Linked DNA regions of Homo sapiens: all the other regions are linked to region 6. Evidence: fine-mapped QTL for protein levels in blood plasma. A gene starts in region 6. Each other region holds a variant in brackets. All regions are shown on one strand. Distances are from middle to middle.

Region 1 (5,076 bases), 180 kb after region 6:
TGCGGATTACTGCCAGCTCACCACTGATGTTCACTTAATGCCTCAGGGCTCTCAGTCAGCTTGTGGTGAATGCTGTCTGGCCTGGAACTCACTCTTCAGGACAGTGGGCTCCCCTCTGGCCCAGGCTAAGTCCAGAGATGCCATCTAAGAGCCAAGGCCTGAATCAGGGACTCCAACAGTCCACTGGGTGCTCTTCTCCACTGTAGCTGAGCTGGTGTCTAAGCTCCAGAAAAATCCTCTTTACTCTGCCTTCGGCTTTTCTCAAGCAGAGGGAGTCTCTCCTCACAGACACCACAGCTGGGAATGTGCGGGGTCACACCTGATGCCAGCACATCTCTGAGTCTCACTCGAGGCCCATGGCATGTACTACCTGGTTACCACTGCTGATTATTCAAGGCCCAAGGGCTCTTTAGTCAGATAGTGAAGAATCCTGCCATTACTGAGTCCTTCCCTTCAAGGAAGCAGGTTCCCTTGTAGCCCAGAGTTTGTCTAGAGATGTTATCCCAAAGCTGAGACCTGAAAGGGGGGTCTCATGACTCTGACCAGTGCCCCCTCCTACTGTAAGCTAGTATCCAAGATGCAAGACAAAGTCCTCTCCTCTCTCCTCTCCTCAAGCGGAAGAAAGAGGTCTCTGTCAGAGCTGCGAGCTGCACTGTCTAGGGTTGGAGGAGGGGTGGGCAAGCACTCCATAGCTGCCCTAGCTGCTGTTTCTCTAGGTCACATGCCCCCAAATACACTGGCTCCAAGCGCGGCACAGCACTAGGACTTGCCTAAGAGTTGCAGTCCTTGTGGCTTAGACAGCCTTTCAGGTTTATTAAGGACCCCGAGTACTTTATCCTGCAGTAGCCAGGCTTTCCACAACTCAAGTTCCAACCACTGGGATAAACAATTCCCTTCTGGCTAGCACTAGTGTAAATGTTTCCTCTGTGGGTGGGCACTAGTGTAAATGTTCCCTCCGTGGGTGGGCACTAGTGTAAATGTTCCCTCCGTGGGTGGGCACTAGTGTAAATGTTTCCTCCGTGGGTGGAGGCATCAGATGAGTGCAACCTTGTTTTGCTTTCTGCTACAACAAGGCAGCACTGAGTTCAGTGCAAAGTCCCACAGCTGCTGTGCTCTCCCTCCGCCAAGCACGGACTCTCTCCTCACCACAGGTCCACTGCTGAGGCTATTCCTGTGGGGAGCACAGCTGGCAGAGATTTCTACTTAGCCATCAGGCTCCACTTCTGTGGCTGCATACATTCTGAATGACAGTCTTACCTACAGGCAAATGTAAAACAAACAAACAAACAAACAAAACCTCGCGCCACTGCCTGTCACGATCTTGATCTTCATATGAGGTGTTCCTTCATATTTTCCTAAGCGTCACCCACAAAGCCATTCTCACTGTCCAGTGGGCACTCTGAGAGCCTTTGCTAAAAATGCCTCCCTGGCTCACCCTGCCTACCAGCTCCAAGGCCCTTCCCTTTACAGCAGTCATGAGGCCAGACTGGAAGAAAGACCCCATGAAGCTCATGTTTCTGTGTCCAGTTGGTGCCATCTGTGAGCAACCCCCTGACTCAGCAAGATTTATTGCACTCTCATAGGTAACTCAAGGACCCCAAAGTGCTGTTGTGGTTGTATGAGTGCCCTAGGAAGCTCTTGAGTGAGGTGAGCATTGGGTGATGTCCAGCAATGCAATGTTTCTCAGACTGCCTGAGGAGAGCTTCTAACTCATCAGCCCAATCTCTAAACACAGGCAACACTCCTGGGGGAGGGGATAGGGGCACAGGGATCTGTGGCTATTCTGTATGTCAAGGTTTCTATAAAACAGATCTTCAGATAAAGGCAGCGGAAACACCAGCAAGAGCAAATGCACAATGTATGACTCAGGGTGAAGCTACACATTTTTCACAGTCTAGAGGCCCTAGACCTGTCAGCGGCCAATTATTTCAAAGGCCAGACATGTGCACCTTAAAGAGAGACTGGAACTTGCAGACGGCCTCTAGAAAGCCATAAAGATATTTACTGTACTATTATGTTCTGGTAGTATACTTGGAAGATAACTGCCAAAAATCACCAGAAAAATACTTTTCAATTTATGAGCAGATTATTACAAGAGCAATTTACCAAGACCTACCAATGAACAATGAAAACTATGAACTGTTATTCTAAAGCTAATAGAAAGATGTGGTTTTCATGTCCATTTCCATCATCTGCACAATGTAACCTTTAAAAATATTTCTTAAAGTGTTAAGTTTATGGGAGCAAAAAAATATTGAAAAATTATCAGAAAGTTCACAAAAACCTTACAAACTCACATGTCATCAGATTAAATGTTCTCAGAGAGCCTGCAGTTTTTCACACTCCCTGCAACCTCATGGTCATCGCTCCACAGCAAGATAAATGGGTGACAAGACAATCCTCTTCTAGTTTGGTTGGACAAATGTCAATATCAGCATAACTTTCAAGTCTTTCTATGTAAATCTGCAAAATAGAGCACTGGCCTTTGATTTAGCTTAGTTTGAGTGCTGTAATAAGAACTCTTAGGAATGACAGGTTTCTTCTGGTTTTGACCAGAAAGTAAGTGCCTTTTATTCTTATGTTCTACAGAGAC[T/C]TTGCTTGATCAGGCAGAGCAAGAGGCCATATCACAATCATAGGTCAGATACTTCTGCTACCTACTGTGCCCATAGAAATGTACAGCCCAGTTTTAGTCACAAGAATGATGGTCATCTCAGCCAAGGGCATCATGAAAAGAGGCAGTGTTGTCACCTTCACACTCATAAAAGGCAGCACACACACAGGCCCAGTGTGGATTTAAAGTCATTCAGTAAATCCTCAAGTGCCTACCACATGTAATGTCTGACACCTAGCTGGTAGGCAGATGGGAACTTTACAAGTACGTCAAGCTTGAATATGTAAAACCCATGTGATAGTGAGCAAATGTTAATCTTTTCACAAAAACTTACCCTTCTATATAGGGCACTAGCTTAAAAAACTGCGGTCAAGAGAGCCCCCCAGTGGCTGCTGTGCAGAGCAGCATGGCAGGCGCAGGTCTCTGAGGTTGTAAAACATTCCCCATAGTCAGTTGTTGGCTTGATAAGGAATGCACGTGTATAAAGAATGGTCCTTCTTACAGCCCCTATTTTTCACATCTTCATGATCACATCATAAAAATTGTTCTGTCTTACATCATCTGCAACTTAGACAATTCTGTTGGTTTTAAGGTGGAAACAGCTGCCAGTCTATGTATCCCTGGGATTCCTCTAACCCTGCTAAGCAGGGTTACTCATGAATTACTTTACATCTATCAATCATCTGTCCTACAAAGAACTGGGCAAACCTTCTTGGAAGGCCAGAAGGTTTTGCAAAAGCTTTAGGAAAGGGTTATGGCTGAAGGCAGCCTGATCCTCTTACCTTGAGTTAATAGTAAAAAGCAAATAACAAGGGAATGTAGAGGAGTTTATCTAAATAGCTTGTTTTCTCATTGTTGTCCTAAGACTGACCTTTGATCATTCGCATGCAGGACTGCTCTCTCTGGGGAGGGCGGGAGAAAGGGAGCAGAATCTCTGTAAAATGTGATGTTCAATAACCATTTGTTTTTGAAAACATTTTTGAGGTTGGTAGCTTAGATCTGGCAATGTTCTCCCATCTAATAACCATCAGACAAGAAATAAACTTGCTTAGAATAAACTTTTTTCCTTTTGTTTTGATTTAAAGAGTTCAAGTAGCTCATGGATATACTCTTCTGCAGAGCACCCTCTGAGGTAACAACACCTCGCAGCTCACCTTTAATCTTTACTCAGCTGTTCACTTTGCCCAGAGAGTGGGAGAAAATCTTCACAATCTATATATCTGACAAAGGACTAATATCCAGAATCTACTACGAACTCAAACAAATCAATCTCATCAAAGAAAAAAAACAAACAATCCCATCAAAAAGTGGGCTAAGGACATGAATAGACAATTCTCAAAAAAGATATACAAATGGCCAACAAACATATGAAAAAATGCTCAACATCACTAATGATAAGAGAAATCCAAATCAAAACCACCTTACTCCTGCAAGAATGGCCATAATCAAAAAATCAAAAAATAGTTGATGCTGGCATGGCTGCAGTGAACAGGGAAAACTTCTACACTGCCGGTGGGAATGTAAACTAGTACAACCACAATGGAAAACAGTGTGGAGATTCTTTAAAGAACTAAAAGTAGAACTACCATTGGATCCAGCAATCCCACTACTGGGTATCTACCCAGAGGAAAAGAAGTCATTATATGAAAAAGATACTTGCACATGCATGGTTATAGCAGCACAATTTGCGATTGCAAAAACGTGGAACCAACCCAAATACCCATCAATCAACAACTGGATAAAGAAACTGTGGTATGTATCTGATGATATACTACTTAGCCATAAAAAGGAATGAATTAATGGCATTTGCAGCGACCTGAATGAGATTGGAGACTATTATTCTAAGTGAAGTAACTCAGGAGTGGAAAAACCAAACATCGTAGTTCTCACTCATAAGTGGGAGCTAAGCTATGAGAATGCAAAGGCATAAGAATAACACAATGGGCTTTGGGGACTTGGCGGGGAATGGCGGAGGGCAGCGGGGCAAGGGATAAAAGACTACAAATGGGGTGCAGTGTATACTGCTCAGGTGATGGGTGCACCAAAATCTCACAAATCGCCACTAAAGAACTTACTCATGTAACCAAACACCATCTGTTCCCCAATAACCTACGGAAATAAAAAACAATCAGCAAAAAGCAAGAAAATTCGTTAATGCGCATGGAAACCTAAGATAATTAACATTAAATTTAAATATGTTGAATCAATAAGAGAATTCGGCAAGAAGCAATGTTAAGGGATAAAAACCAAAAGCTTTTCTCTAACACCTGCAGCACCGGGCTCGACCCGCCTTAGAACCCTCACGCCTGGGGGCGCCAGGACAGGGCTCACAGGTCAATGGGTCGGGTAGGCTGTAAAGAGACAAGGTGGAGGTTCCAGGTTGAAAATGTATAAAATTGTAAAGTAAATTCAAAGTTATATCATTTCAATGCTAAATACTTCAGTAGTGATCCCTTTTTTTAAAA
Region 2 (5,076 bases), 100 kb before region 6:
TCTTTTACCACATTGCCAGGCTGTGACAAAGATAGCTGAAAATGTAGAAGCAGGTTCAGAATTCGGTAATGGCCAGAGGTTAGAGTGTTTGGAGAGCTTGGAAGAAGACAGGAAGATGAGGGAAAGTTTGGACCATTGTAATTACTTGTTAGTTGTGATTAAAAAGCTGACAGAAGGATAGACAGTGAAGGCCAGGCTTAGAAGGTCTCAGATGAAAATGAGGAGTTTACTGGAAACAGGAGCCAAGGTTACATTTGTTTTGCCTTAGCAAAGAATGTCGCTGCATGATGCCCCTAACCTGGAGATCTGTGAAACTTTGAACTTGAGGGTGATGGTTTCGGGTGTATCTGGCAGAATGAACTTTTGGCAGCAAAGCTCAAGAGGTGTCCTGTCTGTGTCCTGGTCTTCTGTGTGACCAAATAAATGACCTCAATTAGAAACTTATATTTAAATTAGAAGCAGAGCTTAAAAGTTTAAAAAATTGCAGCCTGGCCAAATGGTCAAAAAGAATAGCTGATTGTCAGTGGGAAAATTCAAGACAGCTTCAGAAACTTGCATAAAATGGAGCCCAGTGCTAATAGCCAAGACAATGGGGAAAAGGCCTTGAATGCATTTCAGAGACCTTTGCAGCAGCCCTTGCTGTACAGGCCCTGAAGCCTAGGACAGAAGAATGGTTTTCTGGGACAGAATGGTTTCCTGGCCCAGCCCAATGGTCCCCTGCAGTGTGCAGCCTCAGGACACTGCTGCCTACATCCCTGTAGCTCCTGCTCCAGCCATGGCTGAAAGATGCACAGGTACAGCTTGGGTCACTGCTTCAGGGTTGCAAGCTCCAAGCGTTTGTGGCTTCCACATAGTGTTAAGCCAGCAGGTGCACAGAGCACAAGACTAGAAACGTAGAAGTCTTCATCTAGACTCCAGAGTATGTATGGAAAATCCTGGGTTTCCAGGCAGAAGCTTTTCCAACAGGCAGAGCCTCATGGTAAACCTCTACAAGGACAGTACACAAGGAACATATAGGGTGGGAAGCCCCCACACCGGGAGGCACCATTCTCCAGACCCCAGATTCATAGACCCACCAACAGCTTGCACCCTTAGTGTTGAAAAGCTACTGGCACTCAACAGCAGCCCAGCCCATGAGGGCAGCTTTGGGGAAAGACCTTGCCATACCACAAGTGCTGAGCTGCCCAAGGCTTTGGGAGACCAGCCATCAAACCACCCTCTGCTCTGGATGTAGGATGTAGATTCAAAAAGTATGATTTAGAGCTGTATGATGGAATGACTGGCCTGCTGGATTTTTGACTTGCATGGGGTCTGTAAGTCCTATCTGTGTTTTGTGCTTCTTTCTTTGGCAAATTTCTTCCTTTTTGCTGGGAATGTTTACCCAATGCCTGCACAAACATTGTACCTTGAAAGTAGTTAACTCGCTTTGTATTTCAGAGGCTTAGGGGCAGAAGGGACTGCAGCCTTGTCTCAGATGAGACTTTGGGCTTTGGACATTTGAGTAAATGCTGGAATGAGTTAAGGCTTTGGGGGACTGTAGAGAAGGCATAATTGTATTTTGCAAAGTGAGAGTAACATGAGATTTGGAAGGCCAGGGGCAGAACAATATGATTTGGCTCTGTGTCCCAACCAGAACTCATGTAGAATTGTGATGGGGAATGTTAAAAGTGGTGCTTGTTAGAAGGTGATTTAATCATGGTGGACAGTTGAGATTGGAAGTGAGGGTGTGGTGAGTTTGGGGGGTTTAGGCTGGGGGTGGGGGTGAAAGATGGGGCTGGGGGGCAGATCTTTCACAAATGGTTAAACAGTATGTCCTTAATGCTGTCTATGTGAAAGTGAGTTCTCATGATGAATGCATACATACTCTCCAGGTTTTTGGGCTTTCATTGGACCTGTGTCCCAATTGTGTTATTTTTCTGGAAAATTTCTTCCCATTGGACTGAGAAACCTTACCCAATGCCTGTACCATCATTGTATCTTGAAAGAGAAGCACTCCCTTTTACATTCAGGGACTCTTAGGCAGAAGGGACTGCAGCCTCGTGTTGGATGAGACTTTAATCTTTTTACATTGAGTTACTGCTGGAATGAGTTAAGACTTTTGGAAACTTTTGAAAAGGCTTGTTTGTATTTTATTCTGTGAGAAGGACGTGAGATTCAGGGATTTTATGGTCAGAGTAATATGGTTTGGCAGTGTTTCCCTACAAAGATCATGGGAAATTGTATTCCCAAATGTTGGAGGTGGGGCCTGGTGGGAGGTGATTGAATCATGGATGGGAGGGAGTTGGGGGTAGAAGAAAAAAGGAGGGGGTAGGGTGGGGAGGAGTAGGTTGGCAGTAAAGTGGTGAGAGGCTGGTGGGTAGTAGGATGTGGGAGTAGCCTCCTGCAGAGGCAGAGCCTCATGGAAAACCTCTACTAAGGCAGTGCACCTGTGGCTTTCAGTGTTTAGTCCCATGGCGGCTCTCATGGGTTGGGCTGGCCTTGAGTGCCTGTAGCTTTTCCATACTGAGGGTGCAAGCTGTTGGTGGGTCTATGAATCTGGGGTCTGGAGGATGGTAACCTCCTGTGTGGGAACTCCAAGCCCATATTTTCCTTCTGCACTGCCCTAGTAGAGGTTTTCCAAGAGGCTCTGGCTCTGCAACAGGCTTCTACATGGAAACAGTAGTGGGGTGGGGGTGTTGGGGGGGGCCAGATCTTTCACCAATGATTAAGCATCATCTTCTTGATGCTGATTTTGTCATAGTGAGTTGTCGTGAGATCTGGTTGTATAACAGGGTGTCACACCTCTTTCCTCTCTCTGTCTTGCTCCTACTTCTGCCATATGAAACATCCC[A/T]TTGCCGCTTGGTCTTCTGGTATGATTGGGAGGCTTCCTGATTCCTCCCAGAAGCAGAGGCCTCTATGATTCCTTTAAAGCCTGCAGAACCATGAGCCAGTTCAACCTCTTTTCTTTATGATCTTACAGAAAATTAGTGCTCGGAAGTGGAGCTATGAAATGCCTTCAAGGCCTTTTTGTCTTATTGTCTTGGCAATCAGCACTCAGCTTCTCTTCATGCAGATATCGGATCCCTTTGTGAATTTTTCCCTTGAAAATGGACATTTCTTCTTTTTACCACATTGATAGGCTGCAACAAGGATGGATGAAAATGTAAAAGCAGGTTCAGAAGAGGGTAACAGCCAGAGGTTGGAAAGTTTGGAGGCCTTGGAAGAAGTCAGGAAGATGAAGGTAAGTTTTGACCATTGTAGAGACTTGTTAAATAGTTATAATTAAAAGGGCGACAGAAGGATGGACAGTGAAGGCCAGGCTTACAAGATCTCAGATGAAAATGAGGAATTTACTGAAAACAGGAGCCAAGGTTACTTTGGTTTTGCCTTAGCAAAGAATATCACTGCATGATGCCCTTAACCTGGAGACCTATGAAACTTTGAACTTGAGGGTGATGATTTAGGGTGTATCTAAATCATAGGGTGTATCTAAATCACAGACATGAACTTTTGGCAGCAAAGCTCAAGAGGTATCCTGTCTGTGTCCAAAAGCCTGTGGTCTTCGGTGTGACCAAATAAATGACCTCAAGTAGAAACTTAAATTTAAATGAGAAGCAGAGCTTAAAAGTTTGGAAAATTTGCAGCCTGGCCAAGTGGTCAAAAAGAAAAGCTGATTTTCGGTGGGAAAATCCAAGACAGCTTCAGAAATTTGTATAAAATGGAGTCCAGTGCTAATAGCCAAGACAATGGGAAACAGGCCTTGAAGGCATTTCAGAGACCTTTGCAGCAGCCCTTGCTATCACAGGCCCTAAGGCCTGAGAGAGAAGAATGTTTTCCTGGGCCAGCTGCAAGGTCCCACTGCTGTGCTCTGCCACAGCACACAGCTACCTGCATCCCTGCAGCTCCAGCTCCAGCCATGGCTGAAAGATGCACAGGTATGGCTTGAGTCACTGCTTCAGGGGTACAAGATGCAAGCCTTGGTGGATTCTACATAGTGTTAAGCCAGCAGGTGCACAGAGCAAAAGGCTTGAGCCTTGGGAGCCTTCGTCTGGACTCCAGAGCATGTACAGAAAAACCTGGGTTTCCAGGCAGAAGCTTTTCCAAGAGGCAGACCCTCATGGGAAACCTTTTCTAGGGTAGTACAGAAGGAACATATGGAGTTGGAATCCCCACACATGGAGGCACCATTCTGCAAACCCCAGATTCATAGACCCACCAACAGCTTGCACCCTCAGTGTGGAAAGCTACAGGTGCTCAACACTAGCCCAGCCCATGAGGGCAGCTGTGGGGGAAAGACCCTGCAAAGCCACAGGTGAAGAGCTACCCAAGGCCTTGGGAGCCCAGCCATCACACCCCTGTGCTCTGGATGTGGGATTTAGATCAAAAAGAGATGATTTGGAGCTGTACGATGGAATGACTGGCCTGCTGGGTTTTTGACTTGCATTAGATCTGTAAGTCTCATCTGTATTTTGTGCTGCTTTCTGGCAAAGTTTTTTCTTTTGGCTGGAAATTCATACCCAATGCCTGTACAATCATTGTACCTTGAAAGTAGTTAACTTACTTTGTATTTCAGAGGCTCAGGGGCAGAAGGGACTGCAGCCTTGTGTCAGATAAGACTTTGGGCTTTGGATACTTCAGTAAATGCTGAAAGGAGTTAAGACTTTGGGGGACTGTAGAGAAGGCATCATTGTACTTCGCAGTGTGTCAAAGATATGAGATTTGGGAGAACTGGGGTCAGAATAATATGATTTGGTTCTGTGTCCCTACCGATACTCATGTGGAATTGTAATGGGGAACGTGAAAGTTGGGACCTGGTGGAAGGTGATTTAATCATGTTGAAGCCTGGGTGTTGGAGGTAGGGGTGTGGGGAGAATGGTTGAGATTATTTTGGGGGTGGGGTTGAAAGATAAGGATGGGGGGCAGATCCTTCACAAATGGTTAAACACTATCTCCTTAATGCTGTCTGCATGATAGTGAGTTCTCTTGATGATTATGGAGCTTTAAGATTGAGTGAATACTGTCCTGCTGGATTTGGACTTGCATTTGTATTATTTTTCTGGGAAATTTTTTCCCTTTGGATTGAGAAAGCTTACCCAA
Region 3 (5,076 bases), 85 kb before region 6:
ATATGTGTATAGTAATAGCTCATCATAATTTTAATTTTTATTTTCATAATAGCAAATGATGTTAAATGTCCTTCCTTGTGCTTATTTGACATCTGTCTGTGCTTTTTGGTGAAATGCGTGTTCATATCATTTGCCCATTTTCTGTTTGTTTGTTTTGCTATTGAGTTTTAAGAGTTCTTTATGTAATTTAGATACTAATCCTTTGTCTGCTATATGCTTTCAAAACATTTTGTCCTAGTTGGTAGTTTGTTTTTTCATACTCTTAGCAAGGTCATTCACAGAACAAAATTTTTTTCTTTAATTTTGATAGCGTCCGGTTTATCTATTTTTGGTTTTATTGATGATGCTTTTGTTGTAAAGTTTAAAATATTCTTTGCCTGGCCCTAGGTCCTGAAGGGTTTTAATGTATTTTTCTAAAAGATTTGTAGTTTTACATTTAAGTCCGTGGTCTATTTTGAATTAATTCATGTATGGAGTGTTAGGTTCATGTCACCATTCAACTTTGCTTATGGATATGCAAATGCTCCAGCAATATTTGTTGAAAAAACTTCCTTTCCCCACACTGAATTACTTTTATGCTTTTGTCAATAACCTGTCAGTTATATTTATGTGGGTCTGAGTTCTCTGTTCTGTTTAATTTGTCTGTGTATCTTTCACTCTACCAATATCACGTGCTGTTGATTACAATAGCTACACAATAAGTCTTGTAATGGGATAGATTGATTCTTCCAACTTGGTAATTCTTTTTCAAAAATGTTTTAGCTATTTTAGTTCCTTTGCATCTCCAAGACAATTTTAAAATAATCTTGTATTCATCTACAAGAAATATTGCTGAAATTTTTGTAGGAATTGTATATATGAGTTTGGGGAGAATTAACATCTTTGCTATTTTGAGTCTCCAAATTGAAGAACATGATGTGTCTCATCATTTGTTTAGATCTTTGATTTCTTTCATCAGAATTTCTAATGTTTAGCATTCAAGTCTTATGAATGTTTTGTTAGAATTTGAAATGAGTATTTCCTTTTCTGAGCAATTATAAATGGTACTTATTGTATTTTTAATTTTTATATCCAAGCGTTCATCACTCAAAGTACACTTGATTTTTTTGTATATTTATGTCGTATCCTGTAGCCTTGCTGAATTCACTTACTAGTTCTAGGAGTTGTTGATTTTGGTGTTTTAAAATAGATTTCTTTGGATTTTCCACATAGCCATCATGTTATCTGCAAAAGTGAACAGTTTTATTTCTTCCTTTCCAATCAATATGCCTTTTTTTAAATGCTTTACTGAACTGGCTAAAACTTCCTGTGCTGTATTGAATTAGAGTAGTAAGAGCATATATCTTTGCCTTATTCCCTTTCTTAGGAGAAAAGCATTCTTTCTTTGACCATTAAGTATAATGTTAAGTGTTGGAGGTTTTGTAAAAGCTCTTTATCAAATTGAGGAAGTTCCTCTCTATTGTTATTTTTCTCAGAGTTTTTATTTTTATTTTATTTTTTTCAGACAGAGTCTCACTCTGTCACCCAGGCTGGAGTGCAGTGGCTCAATCTCAGCTCAGTGCAACCTCCACCTCCCAAGTGCAAGTGATTCTCATGCCTCAGCCTCCCAAGTAGCTAGCATGCATCACCACACCTGGCTAATTTTTTTGTATTTTTAGTAGAGACAGGGTATCGCCATGTTGGCCAGGCAGGTCTCAAACTCCTGGCCTGATGTGATCTACCCGCCTCACCTCCCAAAGTGCTGGGATTACAGGTGTGAGCCACCACACCTGGGATTTCTCAGAGTTTTTATCATGCATTTTGTCAAATGATTTTTCTGCATCAATTGATACGATTATGTGATTCTCTTCTTCATCATGTTAATATGGTAGGTTACATTGATTTTCACATATGGAACAAGCCTTGCTTTCCAGGAATAAACTGCACTTGCTCATAGCATATAGTTCTTTTTACATATTGCTTAATTCTGTGTCTATATTTATGAGGGATATTGGTCTGTAGTTCCTGTTTTGTTTTGTTTTTTTTAACTGTCTTTGTTTTTGGTATCAAGGTAATACTAGCTTTTAAAAATGAGTTGAGAGAAGGAGAAGGTGGGATTTGGGGGGAAAAGGTTGCAGACTTTTTGACTCAGGTCATTGTGGGCTTAGTCTCTATTGAGTGGCTGGGTTACTGCAGGAAGCCACTCTCCATTCTTAGGTGCATTCTTGTCTAT[T/A]AAAGGAGAAAGTTAAACGCCTCTGGAAAACCTCAGGTTTATTTTAGTGCTTAAAGTCTGTGGCTCTAAATTCAGATCCAGAACTCATGTGGCCTGGCCAGGGAGGGTCACGGAGTGCTTTCCTCACACCTTTGTCTCTAGGCTCTGTAGACCTAGAGGTGTGGGACGTAAGAGCAGGCCCTTACCCATGGAATTTACATACAAATGGTGGAATAAGACAGGAAGTAAATAAATGTGATTATTCTGATAATGGTAAAAATAATAAATGAGATAAATAAATAAAATCACTTGAGAAGTATTCCGCTGTCTTTCTTTTCTCTGGAAGAGGATATACAGAATTGGTATCTATTATTCTTTAAACTTTGGGCAGAATTTTCCAGTGAAACCATCTGAGCCTGGAGATCTTATGTGGGGCTATTTGCATTATTTGTTTTATATTGATAAGTTGTGGTAGTTTATGCTTTTCAAGAAAGTGGTCTATTTCATTTAAGTTGCCAAATGTATGTGTTTAGAGTTGTTTGTAGTATTCATTTATTATCCTTTCAACATCTACAAGGTCTTTAGTGATACCTTCTGTGTCATGCCTAATATTTCTAATCTATAATTCTCTCCTTTTTGCTTTGTCACTCTTGGTAGATGTTTGTGAATTTTATAGATCTTTTTAAAGAACCAGCTCTTTGTTTCATTGGTTTTCTTTATTGTTTTTCTGTTTTAAATTTCATTGATTTCTGCTATTATAGTCATTATTTCCTTCCTTCTTATTTTGAGTGGTTTTTTTTTCTCTTATTTTCTACGTACTTCAAGTGGGAGCTTAAATTATTGGCTTGATAATTTTCTTATCATCTAATTTATGCATTTAGTTCTATGAATTTCCCTCTCACCCTGCTTTATACATACCCACAAATGTTGATGTGTTGCATTTTCATTGTCATTCACTGTATTTTTTATTAAGACATATTTATTAATCCAAAGAACAAATTTTATTTTTCATTTTCCCCAAACACTAAAATAGCACATGGCATAGTAATTAAGCACACAACATAAACTGATATATGCAATCGCTAATCCCGAAAATGGTTAAGTCTCACTTTGGGAGTCTTTAAAACCTTATGCCCTTAAATGACCTTTATTAAAGTTATCAACAGACAACAAAAGGAGTCACCTGGAAAAATTTTAGGGTACAAGATACTGCAATTCCTAGAATCTGGGAAACTTTTTATCTGGGAAATAACTTGATTTGCTTCTCTGTAACTGAGCTACTTTTTTCTCGAGCTCATTTTTTTTTTTGAGACAGTCTCGCTCTGTCGCCCAGGCTGGAGTACGGTGGCGCCATCTCGGCTCACGGCAAGCTCCACCTTATGGGTTCACGCCATTCTCCTGCCTCAGCCTCCCGAGTAGCTGGGACTGCAGGCGCCCCCACCACGCCCGGCTAATTTTTTGTATTTTTTTTTAGTAGAGACGGGGTTTCACCGTGTTAGCCAGGATGGTGTCGATCTCCTGACCTTGTGATCTGCCTGCCTCAGCCTCCCAAAGTGCTGGGATTACAGGTGTGAGCCACCGCGCCCGGCCTCTCGAGCTCATTTTTAAGGTAACGCTGCTAGGGTTCTGAGTTTGAGAAGGGATCTTCTAAAGGTAAGCTTAATATTGCAACTTTCACCACAGGGCCTCTGTCTAAATTGCATTTCAAGTGGAAGGAAAGGGGTGTAAGAAGTGAAATAGAATTTTGCTGCAGACCAAAATCATTCTACAAAATGTAGAAATGATAATAGCTTACCACAAATTCAGCAAGATTTAACGCCAAGTACAGCGGTGTAGACTTTACAAGTATCCACTTCCGTTGGGTGATCAGACAAGCTGAAGGGACACACAGGATTTGGGACAGTAGCCCTTTAGACAATGCTGGGTGTTGAAGACAGAACTTCATCGTAAATCCGTATGTTCTAATCTGATATTTATACAGGCTATGATCGTCTCCTGAAATGTTTCCCAATTCTTTATATGTCTTTTAAAGCACAATTTAACATATGCTAAAAAATTTCCTTCCGCATCCACCAGTTTTGAATTTAAACTCAACTAAGTCTGCCAGGTCGTACAAACCACACCTTAATCATTCTAAGACAACTCTTAAAATTAATCTACTTGTATTGTTCTGCTTGTACCTTAACTATGGCATAATGAATTTGCTAATTCAAAATGTTGCAGAGCCAGTAACCCCAGTGTTATCTGCAGACCATCTGAGGTACTTTTAAGCATTTTTTTGAATTCTATTGTTTGCTTTGAAAACATGGGGTTTAAACGGTCAAGGAAAATGCGTTTTGTCTCGTCATTCAGGAGCTCTTCGGGACACGCCTGCAGTGTTGCAGACAGGATGGAATGCAGGCAAGAGGGTTCCAACTCAGAGCGCAGACCCTTGGGAAAAGCACTTGGTGGGTCATCCTGAAAACTTCCCATTTCCGGCAGTTTTTGATGGCATGGCAGTCGTGACACCTGAGGCTCTCCTTTGGGGCACTGTCCTCTGTGGCCGTGGGTGGCCCTGGGCCCTCCTCCCAGCCAGTCCCGCCCCAGAGCTTCAACACCACTGCAGGACACCCGAGCAAAATACTCTGTTGGAGCAGGGAACAAACCCACGGCTGCGCTCGGAGTGGCTGCTGAGGCTGGATTTCTTCTTACTGATTCTTTCACATATGGAAGAACTGGGCCGCCACTGGGAAGCGAGAGGCCAGCCCTGCTCGGATCCTTTCTCATTTCCAGTGATAATGCCTCACTCTGAATTTCCATCAGCCGCAGGCTTATTCATCCAGGAGGGTGCATCTGCAGGCCAAGGGCCCTCCATCGGCATTCTTTGCTTAAGGCTGTATGACAGT
Region 4 (5,076 bases), 57 kb before region 6:
ATAATAAAAATAAATAAATCAATAAATAAATACATGAAATTGTATCGTTTCATGTATTGATATACTCTGTGTATTCAATCCATAATTAATGGGTTGCCCTAGTCTTTTGCTACTACAGAAAATGAATGAACATTCATTGCAGTGAAAAGTTTATTACAGTGAATAACTTTTTAAATAAAAATTTTACACATATGCAAGTATACTTAGAGGATAAATTTGTGAATATGAAACAGTTGACTGAAATGGTAAGAGAAAAATGTACCTTTTGTAGGAAATGTTATGAAAGTACATTTTACCCAACAACTCTACCAACAGAAATGAATGGCTACCTTTTTTTAAGAAATCAGTCTTATTATGTTGCCCATAAATTTTTTAATTAAAATTTTAGTCTTAGTCATTCTAATTGTCAAAGAAATGGAATTGAAGTTTTGATTTGCATTTATCTCATTATACATATGTATGAAAATATGTTCCTCTAAGAGTCATTTTATTTTCTTTTTCTGTGAACTGTAACCTCGTACCCTTTGCACATTGTTTTCTATTGGGTTTTTGTTTTATATCTTGATCATTTTTAGAACCCAAAAATATTGAAATTCGCCCTTTGTATCTGGTAAGAGTTGCAGATTTTCCATTCTTCTCTTACCAGTTGTCATTTGAATTTGTTCATTGTGTTTCTTCTACTTAGGAATGAGGTTCACTAATGAATATTCTAGTGCCAGAACATTTCAGCGAATTAACAGAGGAGAAACAGTATGATTAGAAAATCACTACTTTGTAACTCTAATGAGGACTATGTCTAAGCAACAAACATGAATGAATACCAAGCATTTAACAGGTTGATGAGGAATCTGTATAACGGATGACTCAGGCTGATAATACTTGGACCCAATAATCAATTTTAATATCACTAAACAGATATTGTGCTTTCTGTTTTGATGCAAAGGGAAGTACGCAGTACTATATATGAAATATTCTCAATAAGACAAAAATGAAATATATCAAATTTGTAGATACACTTAAAAGTCCATGCAAAATATAGAGGATGGAGATACAAGTAAAGTGAAACCATGAGTAAAACTGTCTGTCAAATCTAGATTATGAAAAACTTGGCAGGCCAGGCACAATTGTTCATCCCTGTAATCCCAGCAGTTTGGGAAGCCAAGGCGGGAGGATTGCTGGAGCCAGGAGTTCAAGACCAGCTTAGGCAACATAGTGAGACCCTCTCTCTACAAAAAAATAAAAATCTAGCCAGATGTGGTTGCTGACACCTGTAGTCCCAGCTACTTAGGAGGCGGAGGTGGGAGGATCACTTGAGGTTACAGTGAGCTATGATTGCACCAGTGCACTCCAGTCTGGGTGATACAGCAAAACCCTGTTCTAAAAAATGAAAAATTAAAAAAGAGAAAAAAAGAAAATTCTACAGTAATAGTGACATGATATCTTCAATTTGTAAATATAATAACAAAAAAAGAGAGAGGGCGGCCCAGCCCTCTCAGAGGAATAAGTAGCAGATTTATTGTTTCACCATCAACAATTGTCAAAGGGGAAGAAAATAAGCAACTGTGTCCAGGTTTTGAAAAACAGACAGTACAGACTACAGTTCCTTTTATTTATTTATTTTCTTTCTTCCTTTTATTTATTTATTGAAGACAGAATCTTGCCCTTTGGCCCAGGCTGGAGTGCAGTGGCTCCATCACAGCTCACTGTAGCCTTGACCTCCCGGGCCCAAACAATCTTTCCACTTCAGCCTCCTGAGTAGCTGGGACTGCAGGCACACGCCACCACATTTGGCTAATTTGTCGTAGAGACGGAGTCTCACTATGTTGGCCAGGCTGAATGACTATAATTCTTAAGTGAAGGGAACAGAGCCATGAGCCAGGAAATGGAGCCCAAACATAGAGCAGAGATCTTGTGGGATGATGAAACCTATCAGATGTTGGGGCTTTTGAAGTGGCTGAATTTTATGTGGAAAGTCACCAGAGAGGAAAGAATGGGGCAGGGAAGGATCCCCAGGATTGCATGCAGGTCATGTGATGTCCTGGTTGTACACTAAGCTGCACATGCACAAGGACACAAGGCAGGACCCTGAGAGCTCAGAGAGGATAAATCAGGGGCCGGAGCGAAAGGGAGAGGAGCACTTGGGGGTTGAATGGAGAATTCTAGATTGCACTGCTCCCAGATAGAGTTCAAGCAGCCAGAACAGAGACCATGCATGACTGTTTCTTTATATTTCCCATCGTTACGGTGTTTGTTCTTGTGTATAGTGTGGGAAACTAATCCGACTTTTTCAAATGGCTATGCCATTGGAAAAATAAATGGCTACATCATTTACTTAAAAATTCCCCTTTTTAGCCCAATGATTTGAGATATGAACTTTTTATGATTTACTAATTTTCCATAATATTTGGATTTTATTTGTGTGCTTGATTTTAGTTCTATCTCATTCATCTATTTGTTTAGTCGTGGGCCATTATTATTGTTTTAATTATATAGTCTTTGCAGTTGGCTTAATATGTGGTGATGTTAATCCCCCTCGTTTCTCTTGATAGTATTTTTCTACCCTTGTGATTATTTTTCCATATGAACTTCAATATCAACTTGTCTAGATCCAAAAACCCAACCAAAAGAAACTACTGTTGTTATCTCAATTGGGATTGCATTGACTTCATATGCTAAATTACTGGAGAACTGACATACTGATGATATTGAGGCTTTCTATCCAAATGTCTCTACATCTGTTCAAGCCACTTTTATGTTTTTTAGAAATGTTTTACAGTGTTTTTTTGGTGTGTGTGTTGCTGTTTTTTGTATTTGAGACAGGGTCTTGCACTGTTGCCCAAGCTGGAGTGTAATGGCATGAAACAGCATCCTGCAGCCTCATCTTCCTGGGCTCAAGCAACCCTCCTGCCTCAGCCTTCCTAGTAGCTGGGACCACAGGTGTGCACCACCACGCCCAGCTAATTTTTTTTATTTTTTGTAGAGAC[A/G]AGGGTCTCACTTTGTTGCCCAGGTTAGTCTCAAACTCCCAGGCTCAAGCAATCCTCCTGTTTTGGCCTCCCAAAGCATTGGGATTACAGGCATGCACCACAATTCCTGACCTACAGTTTTCTTCTTATGGGCTTTGTACATTTCTTGGTAAGTTTATTCCTAAGTATGTTTTATTGCTATTGTAAATGTAGTTATCTCTGCCCTTATAGCTTCTGACTGTAATTTGTATGTGTGAAGGCTATTTATTTTTGTACAATTGTCTTCAAATTTTTAATATGTATTTTAAATTGCTTTGCCAAAGATATCAACACTTGATCCCCATTAGCATTATAGGAAAATTTATTATCTTACTGGACCTTTTCATTTTTGAAGCAGATTAATTTGGAAACTTTTACAAATTGATGAGCAAAATTATTTGTTTCCATTTGAATTGATTTAATAACTGAAAAAGTTATTTTTCATGTTTTTATCACTTATAAACCTTCTATAAATTTATCTTTAATTTCTCTTTTCCACTTTTCTGTTTCAGCCTCCTGGTATTTTTAAGGAAATGTAAGAGTGTGAATCAGGTACTGATGGTTTTGACTTCATTATGATCAGCATCTTTGGCTTCCATCAGAGTAGACACTGAACGTTTTCATCCAACCGGATGATGAGTGCATTAGTGAGTATTTATTTAGTTCATAATACATGTTCCTGCCACACTCCACTGTAATTTGTTTCAGACTGACTAATGTAATGAGAAATCTTACCAAATATAAATGGCACTGCAGATCAAAACCCACTTGATTTTTCTCATTTTATTCTGGGTTCTGGAGAGAGACTAATTATTACTGCCAAAATAAATGTGTGTCATAAATGAAGGCTTATTTGCTATGGAAATACTCATTATTTCCTATTGGCCTACATCATATCCCAAAATTACCTGTGAACATTGAGAGGGATAATTGGTTACCATGGAACTTTCCAACATGATATTTAATATAGTTCTATTCTTTTCGTATTCCCTTTTAAAGGAACTACATAAGAGATGAAATCCTTTCTCCCTGGGACATGTATCCTTTTGTGTTCTGCTTTTAATTTGATGTTTTTCAGTCTTTTCAGGCTGAAATATAATATTTGTATCATTCTGAGAGCCTGTAACACCATGCTTTCCAGCAATACAATTATGGAAATTTTTTTCCTCTCTCATATTGACATTGGGATTTGGAGGAACTTACTGCTACTCCTGATGCCTATTTACACCTTTTTGATATGTCCCCAGCAGAAGAAGCCCATGGGCTTGCTTTTCCTTCACTTGTCTGTTGCTAATACGATGACACTTCTCCGCAAAGTTATTCCATTGGCAGTAAAATCTTTCAACACTAAAAATCTTTTGAATTATACTGGATGTAGGGAATTTGAATTTTTATATAGAGTATCTTGGGGACTTCCCCTATGTACGACATACCTCCTAAGCATGGTGCAGGCCCTCCGTGGGAGCCCCAGCAAATCCAGGTGGACGTGGCTGAAAGACAAAATGCTCAAAACACCACTGTGCTTCTTCTTACACTCTGGGTCATCAACAGTCTCATCTACATCAAGCTTGTGCCATTTGTTGACACTATCAAATATGGCAGTGTCACCAAGAATCTCTCCATAAAAATGTGTTTAGCTACACCACACATGGGCAACACAATTGCTGTCTCTCATACGAGTGTTATCACATTCCAGGACTTAATTTTTCTGGTTCTCATGAGTTGAGCCAGTGGCTACTTGGTGATTTTCCTTCACAGACACCAGAAAAATAATCCACATCTTCACAACAACAGCTGTTCCTCTATAGCCTCCCATGAGACCGGAACCATCACGACTGCGCTGCTGCTTATGATTTGCTTCGTTGTATTTAATGTGAGCAACTCGTGCCACAGCATTTACCTAAGTACGGTGAAGAAAAGGGATCAGTTGTGGACCATCTCAGATTTGATTTCCTCATGTTACCCCATTTTTTGGTCCATTTTTGCTCATTGGTAGAGAAAGTCTTATCCTGAATTCAAAATCTATGAAGTAGAGAAAGTCGTCTTATCCCATAGATATGTCAAAGTAAACTTT
Region 5 (5,076 bases), 77 kb before region 6:
GAATTTCTTTGTCATCTTAGTGTTTGTACCTATTCATTATCTTTTTAAAAAACACCTTTTAACAGACTTTATTTCCTAAAGCAATTATATGTTCAAAGCAAAAATGAGCCCAAAGTACTGAGAGGTCCTATGTATCCTCTACCCCTTCCCCACATGCGCAGCCTCACCAACTGTCAACATCCTATATTAAAGTGTTACATTGGTTCCCATCAATGCACTTACACTGACACATCATTATGACCCAGAGTCCATAGTTTACATTAGTGTTCACACTTGATGTTGCATATTCTGTAAATCTGGACAAATATAATAATGACATGTATCCACCTTAACAGTATCATACAGAATTGTTTATTGACCCCCAAAACCCTTAGTTCTCCACCTGTTCATCCCTCACTCTCCCTAACTCCTGGCAATCACTGATCTTTTTACTGTTTACATAGCTTTGCCTCTTCTATAATGTGTAATTGGAATCATGCAGTATGTCGCCTTTTCAGATTGGTTTTTTTTCACTTAGTGATATGCTTCCCAACTTCCTGTTTTGCAGCCAGGCACAGTGACTCAATGCTGTCATCCCAGTACTTTGGGAGGCTGAGGTGGGCATATGGCTTGAGCCCAGGAGGTTGAGGCCAGTCTGGGCAACATGGCAAAACTCTGTCTCTACAAAAAATACCAAAATAAAAAAAAAGTTTCTCCATGTCTCTTCATGGAGAGAGGGTCTCACTCTGTCACCCAGACTGGAGTGCAGTGCTACCATCATAACTCACTGTAACCTCAAACTCCTGGCCTCAAGCAATTCTCCCACCTCAGCTGCCTAAGCAGCTGGGACTATAGGTATGCACCACTACACCCAACTCTTTTTTTTTTTAATTATTTACATTTTTGTAGAGACGAGGTCTGGCTATGTTGCCAGACTAGTCTCTAACTTCTGGCCTCAAGCTATCCTCCTGCCTCAGCCTCATTTCTTTTTAGTGCTGAATATTCCATTGTCTGTATGTGCCATAGTTTATTTATTCATTCATCTACTGAAGGACATCAAAGTTGCTCCTGAGCTTTAGCACTTAATGAATAAAGCTGCTATAAGAATTTGTGTTTAGGTCTTTGTGTGGACATAAGTTTTGAACTCATTTGGGAGTTATTTTTAATAGATACAAAGTCTCAGCTTTGCAAGATGAAAAGAGTTGTGAGGATGGATAGTGGTAATGGTAACAGAGCAATATAAATGTCTAATACCACTGAACTGCATTCTTTAGTGTATTTTACTGCAATTTTTAAAAACTAAACAACATGACCCTCATACAAAAATGTACCACCTCACTTTCTCAGTAAAATTATTTTAGCAAAGTTCCAGTGGTAACAGAAATCAAAATCTTAAAAATACGTATATTCTTTGAGTCAGTAATTCCATTTCTAGATATGTATTCTAGAAAATCTGGCAAGGGAATAATATTGTAAATACACACATTTGGCGTGGTTTTTTTCAAACAATGACAAGTGGAAAACCACCTCAATATTTCAGAATAGGGGATTGGTTAAATATCACTCTGATTATCACCACACAATTAGCTATTTACAATTATGATCTAGATGGAGAACTGTAACATGAAATTTTGTTCCAATATTTTGTTTTGTTGAAAAAAGCAGATCACAAAACTGTGTGTGTGTGTAATGCTTTTCAAGTAATTAATCTAGAGAATTATCTGACAAGCATCCAGAGATCATGTTAAAACTTTACGCAGATGAAGCTTGGGGAACCTGTCTAACATTTTATTCGCATAAAAAACATCTCTGAGTGCTCATTCTGGGCCAGGCCTTTTATGTATACAGCTCATTTAGTCCTCACAGCAGCCCTTCATGGTGGACACTTTCATTATTTTTTTTTCCTTTTTATACTGTGCTAAAATATACATAACATAAAATTTGTCATTTTTACCATTTTTAATTGTGCAATTCGGTGACATTAATTACAGTAACAATGCTGTGCTACCAACATCACTGTCCTGATCCAAACTGAAATTCTGTATCCATTAAACAACTGCCAGTTCCTCCTTCCTCAGCCCCTAGTAACCTCTATCTCCTTTTACTCATGAATTTACTAATTCTAGCTCCTTCACAGAATGGAATCATGCAGTATTTGTCTTTTTGTGTTGGGCTTATTTCATGTAGCATATAATGCTTTCAGTTTCACCAATATTGTGGCAAATGTCAGAACTCTTTCCCGTCTCATTGTTGAATAATATTCCATCCTATGTGATGCCACATCTTCTTTATCCATTCATTTGCTTGTGGACACTTGGGTGGTTTCCATCTTTTAGCTATTGTAAGTAATGCTGCAATGAACATTGGCATGTAAGTATCTGCTTTAGTACCTGCTTTCAGTTCATCGTATATATACCTAGAAGTGGAGTTGCTGATAATTCTATATTATAATATCATAGAATAATTCTATGTTTGATAGCTATGACAAGTCTATGTTTAACTTTTTAAGGAAACACCAAACTGTTTTCCACAATGGCTGTCTCATTTTAGTGTCTCCCAGCAGCAATGCCCAACGGTTCTAATTTCTCCACATCCTCATTGACACTTGCCATTTTCTGTTTTTTTCATAGTAGTCATCCTAATGGTTGTGAAGTGCTATCTCATTGTGGGTTTGAATTGCATTTTCCTAAGTATGGAGGATGTTGAGTACCTTTGCATGTGCTCATTGGCCTTTTGTTTATCTTCTCTGAAGAAATAGTTT[T/C]ACTCATTTTTTAATTGAGTTTTTTGGTTGTTGATGAGTTACAGGAGTTCTTGATCTATTCTGGATATTAATCCCTTATCAGATTTATGATTTGCAAGACTTTTCTCCAATTCCGTGAGTTCCCTTTTCACTCTGTTGAGTGTGTCCCTTGATGCACATAGTTTTGTGCTTTTTGTTTGCACATAGTTCTTTTGTTGTGTGTCCTCTTAGTGTTTAGTGGAGGTTCATACCCTCTTATTTTTTCTGCATTTGTGGTTTTTGAAAAATTTTATACAAAAAGTATTTTAAAAAATAGTCAAAATGATTGTGATTGTATCCAGCCTCTATCATTTTACATTCCATGTGATTTTAAGGAATAGTCTTAAGCACCCTGAGTTTCATTTCCTTCACCCTTAAAGGGGATTATATCTACTTCATTGGGTGTATGAGAACTGATATCCTATTATGTATAAAATGCTGAAAACAATTCCCAGCACTGAACAAAATTTGCAAACTAATATATCATTGTCATCAACAATAACAAAAAATAATAGCAACATAGTATACTATTATAGCTCATTGCACCATGTTCCTATTTTGTGTGTTGTCTATTATTTTCATCAAAATAGAATTATCAAGTTATTTTAAGTCATTATTTATGCTTCTGATTATTTCTTGGAATATTAAAAAACAATTTGGGGGATTGTCTTAGTCCATTTCTACTGCCAAAACAAAATACCACAGACCGGGCAATTTATAAACAATAGAAATTGATTTCTCATGGTTCTAAAGACTGGGACGTCCAAGATCAAGGTACCAGCAGGATTGATGTCTGGTGAGGGCTGCTCTCTGCTTCCAAGATGGTGCCTTGTTGCTGCATCCTCCAGAGGAGTATAACACTGTGTCCTCACATGGTGGAAGGGATGGAATGGGACAAACTCACTCTTTCAAATCTTTTTATAAAGGCCCTAAACCCATCCATGAGGGCTCCACCCTCGTGACTTAATCACCTCCTGAAGGCCCAACTGCTTAATTCTATCACATTGGCAATTACATTTTAGTACTTGAATTTGGGGGATCGGTGGGTATAAAACAGTTTAAGAATACTGAAGCCTGTAGCCAAGTTGCACTCCACAAGTGAATCACCAATAGTAAAAGAAAAAAGTATAATTATATTGCTATATTTTTACAACAGCAGATTTGTAAATTAAAATGTTACCTCACCAATTTGATGGCATAAAGTATTACAAAATGTTCTCATTTCAACATGAAGTTGCAAGTAATTTCATATATTCCTCATTTTTTCTTCTGTGCATTCTGTCTTTAGCCATTGATTTATGAATGGTCCATGTAATAATTTAACCTTGTATTTCTCATATATTTTTAAATATTTTTCTAGTTTGTCTATTCTTTTTAATTATGCTGTGCTATGCATGAAGAATTTCTAATTATTTTAATTTAATCCATTTAATTTTTCTTTTTTTTTTTTTAATTTGAGAGAGTCTTATTCCGCTTCCCAGACTGGAGTTCAGTGGCACGATCTCAGCTCACAGCAAACTCTGCCTCCCAGTCAAGTGATTCTCCTGCCTCAACCTCCAGAGTAGCTGGGATTACAGATGTGCACCACCACGCCTGGTTAATTTTTGTATATTTAGTGGAGACGAGGTTTCACCATGTTGGTCAGGCTGGTCTCTAACTCCTGGCCTCAAGTGATCCGCCGGACTCAGCCTCCCAAAGTGCTGGGATTATAGGCGTGAGCCACTACGCCTGGCCTCTTTCTTTTCTTTTTTGATTTGCTTAAGAATTCCTAAGACCTCTCAAAAAACATGAAATTTCTATTATAACATAATTAATTGTCCAGCTGTTAAGAACTTATTTTGTTTGTATGTAAAAATTGTCAAACAACTTTATAGCCTCCAAATAATTACCTGGTTTCCACAACACCATTCAGTAAATTATTCTAAATTTTCCACCAAATTTATAGCATCAAATTATCAGGTACTTTATTTTTATTTATAATATAATTATTTTCTTTTCTCTGTGTTCTATTTCTTTTAGTTATCAGGTTATTTCTATACTCATAACTTAATTATTTATCTTTTTTTATTACTACATGAAATGCATTGCATATACAAAAGTTCATGAATGAACTTTTCTTTTCATGATGAACTTTTCCAGTGTAACTTATTGATTATACTTTCCTATTTATTACTCCAAATTAATTTCAGAATATCTTTTTTTTATAACATATTAGCTCCTTGAATACAATTCTATCAATAAATTGAATTTGTAACATTTGGCAGCTTTTCAATACTTAATCTTTTTTCCATCACCCTCATATATTTTTCTAGGATTTT
Region 6 (5,076 bases):
GCCTGGCTAATTTTTGTTTGTTTGTTTTGTATTTTTGGTAGAGGTGTGATTTCGCCATGTTGCCCAGGCTGGTCTCAAACTCCCAGGCTCAGGAGATCCACCTACCTTGGCCTGCAATACAATATACTTTTGTATTTTTTATATAACCACCTGACAGCTTTGGCCCCTAGTTGTATTTGAGAGGGAAAAGCTGCTATTTATTTAAAGGAAGGACATATAATTATTAATAAATTGATTTTTAAAAAGATGTATTTGCCTGATGGTGCTTCTGAAAAGTTGTCAGTTTAATTGTTTTTAATTTGTTAAAAGAAAATCCATAGCCAAATTAAATTTAAGAGAATTTAATTGAGCAAAAAACAATTCGTGAATCTGGCAGCCTCCAGTGCCAGAGTAGGCTCAGAGAGACTCCAGTGCAGCCACATGGGGGAAGATTTATAGACAGAAAAGGGCAAGTGAGGCACAGAAACTGCAGGATTGGATACAGCTCCATGTTTGCCTTATTTGAACATGGTTTGAACAACTGAACCTCTTTGATTTACAGAAATTCGGGGATAGGCACAAGAGCAGGCTACAGTCTGTTTACACCTCCATTTAGATTACAATTCGCTATGTACAGAGAAACCTTTAGGCCAAACTTAAATCACATGGGGAGGCAGCTTTAGGCTAAACTTGATTTCACAAATTTTCAAATTAACAAGTAAAAACTGTGGATATTATTCAATTTAATCTTTAAGAGTTTATTAATCAATATGCATTATAACTTCATTTTTGTAAAAACAAAAAAAGATATGCCTAGAAAAGGGTTATGGAGAGGGCACAAGGGACGTTTATTTTCTAAAACATATTTTTTATAATGGATTTTTTTATATAACTTTAAAAAGAATTAGAAACGTTTCTGAATTATTAATGATTTCCTTAAATCTTTAGCTACATATATTTCTCCATAAAGAGCAGTTCCTCAAACTGCATCACCTCAACCCTGATATTATATATTTTTATTTTTATTTTTATTTTTTGAGACAGAGTTTCGCTCTGTCACCAGTCTGGAGTGCAGTGGCACGATCTCAGCTCACTGCAACCTCCGCCTCTCGGGTTCAAGCAATTCTCCTGCCTCAGCCTCCTGAGTAGCTGGGACTACAGGCGCCCGCCACCACGCCCAGCTAATTTTTGCATTTTTAGTAGAGACAGGGTTTCACCATGTTGGCCAGGATGGTCTCGATATCATGACCTCGTGATCCGCCCGCCTCGGCCTCCCAAAGTGCTGGGATTACAGGTGTAAGCCACCGCGCCCGGCCGGTATTAAACATTTTTAAAGTAAATTTATTAAATCTCAAAAGAAGCACACTTTGAATACTGAGGAAGAGACGTTGTAACCCATAAGCAGAGAGTAGGTAAGTAAAAGCAATTTCCACCACTCTCAGACTGGGCGTAGTGGCTCACGCCTGTAATCCCACCACTTTTGGGAGGCTGAGAGGGGAGGATCGCTTGAGGCCAGGAATTCAAGAGCAGCCTAAGGAAACTTAGCCAAACTCCATTTCTACAAAAGAAAAATTTTTAAAGCAATTTATTTCACCATTCTCAACGCTTTTCTCTTTTTTATTAACCAAATATTTCTGTAACTCTTTTTTTTTTTTTTTTTTTTTTTTTTGGTATTGAAAGACATGGGAGAAGGAAGAATTCCTGAATGCAACAGACTGGGAAGGACGCACCACAAAACGCTCCGCGGTCTCTGGACACCCTATCAGCTAGTCCCGTCCCTCCTGGTGTCCGGTCTCGACCATCCATCCCGTGTTTTGGGAGTGCCTTTCCTTACCAGATTCTTCTAAAGCCCTGATGCACCCACCCTTAAGTGGAAGGTAATGCTTCTGCTGGGGGCTGTGCGTTCTTCCACTCCGTCCCACCTTTGCCGTGGACTAAACAGGAGCCACTGAACGAGAGTACCCTGGCTCCCGGCCCTGCAGATTTTCACCAAAAACTCTAGGACTAAGTTAAAGTAGGGACTGAAATACCACACAGAGCTCGCTGTAAACCACCCGCTCAGCGCAGTAAGTCGGGATAGTCAGTAGATCTGAGCCCTTGAGGGAGGCGCCTCCCCCTCCTCCGCGCAGCCCCCGGGCGCCCGGCCCAGCTTCCCGCAGCCAGGGTGTATTGAGGTAGGCGCGCCCAGACCTGAGACGGGTTGGGACTGGGCTGCGTCACGCGCGGGCTCTAAGCGCCCGGGGCCCCGCCCAGTGGCCGGCACAGCCAATCGCAGCGCGGGAAGGCGGTGGGGGCGGGGAAGGCCGCCTGGAAACTTAAATCCCGAGGCGGGCGAACCTGCACCAGACCGCGGACGTCTGTAATCTCAGAGGCTTGTTTGCTGAGGGTGCCTGCGCAGCTGCGACGGCTGCTGGTGAGCGCCCCCGACCAGACCGAGGGACAGGGCGAAGGGGGACTGGAGGAGGGAACCCCCCTTTAGGGACACTGAGAGGAGGCGGGCGCTTCTGGGAGTGAGAGCTTCTGCCCGGAGCTCTGCCAGCCTCGAGGTGGGGAACGGGGGAGGGCGGTTGGAGACCCCAGGGAGGCGCCGGCACCACTGGGAGGGCCCGGGCGGGGCAGGTCAGTCATCCTGTGGGCTGAAGCCGGACCGGACCGGGCGGCTTCATGCCCCCAGCCTGGCCGCGGAGCCCCCGCTCCCTGCACCGCCGCAAACATTCTCGGGGCGCGGCGGCGCGTGCAGAGGGCGAGAGCAGGCGGTGCGGCCCCGGTCCTGGCCCGCCCGGAGCTCCGGGAGCTGCCTGCCTCGGTCCGGGCCCTGGCCCTGGGGCCCCTGGCTTCCAGCGGCGCGGCCTTGTGACCCTGCCCCGGTTTAGGGGAGCGAGTAGCACAGACCCAAGTGTGGGACGGCGGGAATAGTGGGTGCTCTCCTTCCCAGTGTCTCCTGGAAAGGGATTCCCGAAAGGTTTTATTCCAAAAGGAGAGGTTGGAAGACATAGCTCATCTCCTGCTGTGTATCAGCCAAGAAGGTGTGAGGTGGTGTTCCTTGGGGATCCGCTTGCATCTACTTGGGATGGTACGTCTTCATTAGTGAGGTTTTGCCTGGATGACCTCAGTACAATTGGTGCAAAACCTGGACCAACTCTTTCCTAGTTTTCTAGTTGTTGCCTTAAGCTTCTCACCCGTCAGGTATCTTTCACACCCTTCTCATACCCTAAATTATCGCATATGCTGTTTCAACGCCTCCAACTCTGCAGGCTGCTTTTAATTTTGGTGGGCCCATCAAATACCTCCACTTGGCCTGTTTCAGCCTCTTCCACAGTCCTTGGGGAAATGCTAGGGAGAATAATTGAAATATTTCTATTCCACGGGGGCTGTAAGATGGCTTTTTAGGATTGGTCTAATCAGATACTCATTTCTTTTCTCTTTCTAGGTTTTGAAACATGAATCTTTCGCTCGTCCTGGCTGCCTTTTGCTTGGGAATAGCCTCCGCTGTTCCAAAATTTGACCAAAATTTGGATACAAAGTGGTACCAGTGGAAGGCAACACACAGAAGATTATATGGCGCGGTTGGTAACATCTGAAACTGTCCAGAGGGACTCTGGAGAGAATGGTCCTCGCTGTTGGGAGTTGATAGCCAGAGAGTAGCTTCTAGACACCAGACCTTACCAGGCAATAACCTAACAGCACCCATTATAGGTGCAATATGGGCATATATCTCCATTGTGTCTTGGCTTGGAGAACAGCTCCCAGAGAAGTATCAACCCATCCCTGGCCATGGTTTCTCTTCCATTTCTGCCCGCAAATCGGCTTGGTGAACATGGGTTGGGTAAGTAGACATAAAGTCCACCAGCTATATGTTTGCCTCTAGAATGAAGAAGGATGGAGGAGAGCAGTGTGGGAAAAGAATATGAAAATGATTGAACTGCACAATGGGGAATACAGCCAAGGGAAACATGGCTTCACAATGGCCATGAATGCTTTTGGTGACATGGTGAGTGTGGCAAGGATTGCTGAACTCTGTGCTGCTTCTCAGTTCTTCACCAAAATAGTCTTGCTTTTAACATTTTATTTACTTCTCCTTGAAGACCAATGAAGAATTCAGGCAGATGATGGGTTGCTTTCGAAACCAGAAATTCAGGAAGGGGAAAGTGTTCCGTGAGCCTCTGTTTCTTGATCTTCCCAAATCTGTGGATTGGAGAAAGAAAGGCTACGTGACGCCAGTGAAGAATCAGGTGAGACAGCGTCAGATTCAGACCCTGTCTCCACAGGAAAGCCAAGAAGGAATTGGTGTCATTGCTGTGGTAGATGGTGGCACAACATATGGTGATGGGTTTTTTGTATTTTTGGTTTTTGGTGTTTTTTTTGTTTGCTTGTTTGAGACGGAGTTTAGCTCTTGTTGCCCAGGCTGGATTGCAATGGCGTGATCTCGTCTCACTGCAACCTCTGCCTCCTGGGTTCAAGAGATTCTCCTGCCTCCACCTCCCGAGTAGCTGGGATTGCAAGTGCTCACCACCATGCCCAGCTAATTTTTGTGTATTTTTAGTAGCGACAGGGTTTCACCATGTTGGCCAGGCGGATTTCAAACTCCTCTCCTCAAGTGATCTGCCCGCCTCGGCCTCCCAAAGTGTGGCGATGGGTTTTTTTTTTTTTTAAAGAATATTAAGGTAATTCAATTATGGGGTACTGTATTTGTATTGGTCTTGTAAATTTACAGCTTTTTTTTTCTCCCTTTTTAGAAACAGTGTGGTTCTTGTTGGGCTTTTAGTGCGACTGGTGCTCTTGAAGGACAGATGTTCCGGAAAACTGGGAAACTTGTCTCACTGAGCGAGCAGAATCTGGTGGACTGTTCGCGTCCTCAAGGCAATCAGGGCTGCAATGGTGGCTTCATGGCTAGGGCCTTCCAGTATGTCAAGGAGAACGGAGGCCTGGACTCTGAGGAATCCTATCCATATGTAGCAGTGGTAAATGGAGCTCCTTATCTTGTCATTCGTGCTCTGCTTTTGGAAAGTGGAACACTTTCAGAGATAACAGATACTTTTTTCAGAATTCACATTTTATATGGTAGAATCTACATCTGCAAACCGTGAGTATTGTCAT

Which allele goes with the higher level. Positions count from the first base shown, and alleles are read on the strand shown. Strength reflects both the effect of a copy and how common the allele is.
As copies of T replace C in region 1, the plasma level of the protein whose gene starts at base 2,321 in region 6 goes down (weak association).
With allele A in place of T in region 2, the plasma level of the protein whose gene starts at base 2,321 in region 6 is lower (strong association).
In carriers of allele A in region 3, the plasma level of the protein whose gene starts at base 2,321 in region 6 tends to be lower than with T alone (weak association).
For the plasma level of the protein whose gene starts at base 2,321 in region 6, allele G in region 4 goes with a higher level than allele A (moderate association).
For the plasma level of the protein whose gene starts at base 2,321 in region 6, T is the high allele of the variant in region 5 and C is the other (weak association).

Evidence for each region. PIP is the posterior inclusion probability: the model's chance that the variant is causal. The UK Biobank Pharma Proteomics Project read protein levels with antibody pairs (Olink). The fine-mapping took linkage between variants from a reference panel, not from the people measured, so its PIPs are less certain.
Region 1: its variant is fine-mapped to the plasma level of the CTSV protein (UK Biobank, PIP 0.97).
Region 2: its variant is fine-mapped to the plasma level of the CTSV protein (UK Biobank, PIP above 0.99).
Region 3: its variant is fine-mapped to the plasma level of the CTSV protein (UK Biobank, PIP above 0.99).
Region 4: its variant is fine-mapped to the plasma level of the CTSV protein (UK Biobank, PIP above 0.99).
Region 5: its variant is fine-mapped to the plasma level of the CTSV protein (UK Biobank, PIP above 0.99).

Annotation. Positions count from the first base shown.
Region 1 is chr9:96,854,918-96,859,993 of GRCh38, reverse strand. It overlaps a transcript of ZNF782 not described here. Among named protein-coding and RNA genes, the nearest start is that of ZNF782, 2.9 kb to the right of the region's middle. RefSeq lists an enhancer at 1-127 and a silencer at 1-127. The variant T/C (reference allele first, on the strand shown) is at 2,594.
Region 2 is chr9:97,137,997-97,143,072 of GRCh38, reverse strand. It overlaps LOC112268050 (a long non-coding RNA gene), which reads left to right. Exons shown (of 6, transcript XR_002956927.2): 6 at 3,119-3,204. Among named protein-coding and RNA genes, the nearest start is that of SUGT1P4-STRA6LP-CCDC180, 98 kb to the left of the region's middle. The variant A/T (reference allele first, on the strand shown) is at 2,831.
Region 3 is chr9:97,121,733-97,126,808 of GRCh38, reverse strand. LOC105376166 (a long non-coding RNA gene) reads left to right here. Exons shown (of 3, transcript XR_930154.3): 3 at 1-2,510. It also overlaps the pseudogene FAM220CP. Among named protein-coding and RNA genes, the nearest start is that of CTSV, 85 kb to the right of the region's middle. The variant T/A (reference allele first, on the strand shown) is at 2,213.
Region 4 is chr9:97,093,695-97,098,770 of GRCh38, reverse strand. It overlaps LOC107987104 (a long non-coding RNA gene), which reads left to right. Exons shown (of 4, transcript XR_007061681.1): 2 at 3,515-3,649; 3 at 4,002-4,040; 4 at 4,768-5,076. It also overlaps the pseudogene VN1R51P. Among named protein-coding and RNA genes, the nearest start is that of CTSV, 57 kb to the right of the region's middle. The variant A/G (reference allele first, on the strand shown) is at 2,985.
Region 5 is chr9:97,113,460-97,118,535 of GRCh38, reverse strand. No RefSeq gene overlaps it. Among named protein-coding and RNA genes, the nearest start is that of CTSV, 77 kb to the right of the region's middle. The variant T/C (reference allele first, on the strand shown) is at 2,741.
Region 6 is chr9:97,036,387-97,041,462 of GRCh38, reverse strand. CTSV (cathepsin V) reads left to right here and starts at 2,321. Exons shown (of 8, transcript NM_001333.4): 1 at 2,321-2,392; 2 at 3,410-3,545; 3 at 3,848-3,970; 4 at 4,065-4,211; 5 at 4,716-4,940. The coding sequence starts at 3,420. RefSeq lists a silencer at 1,977-2,286.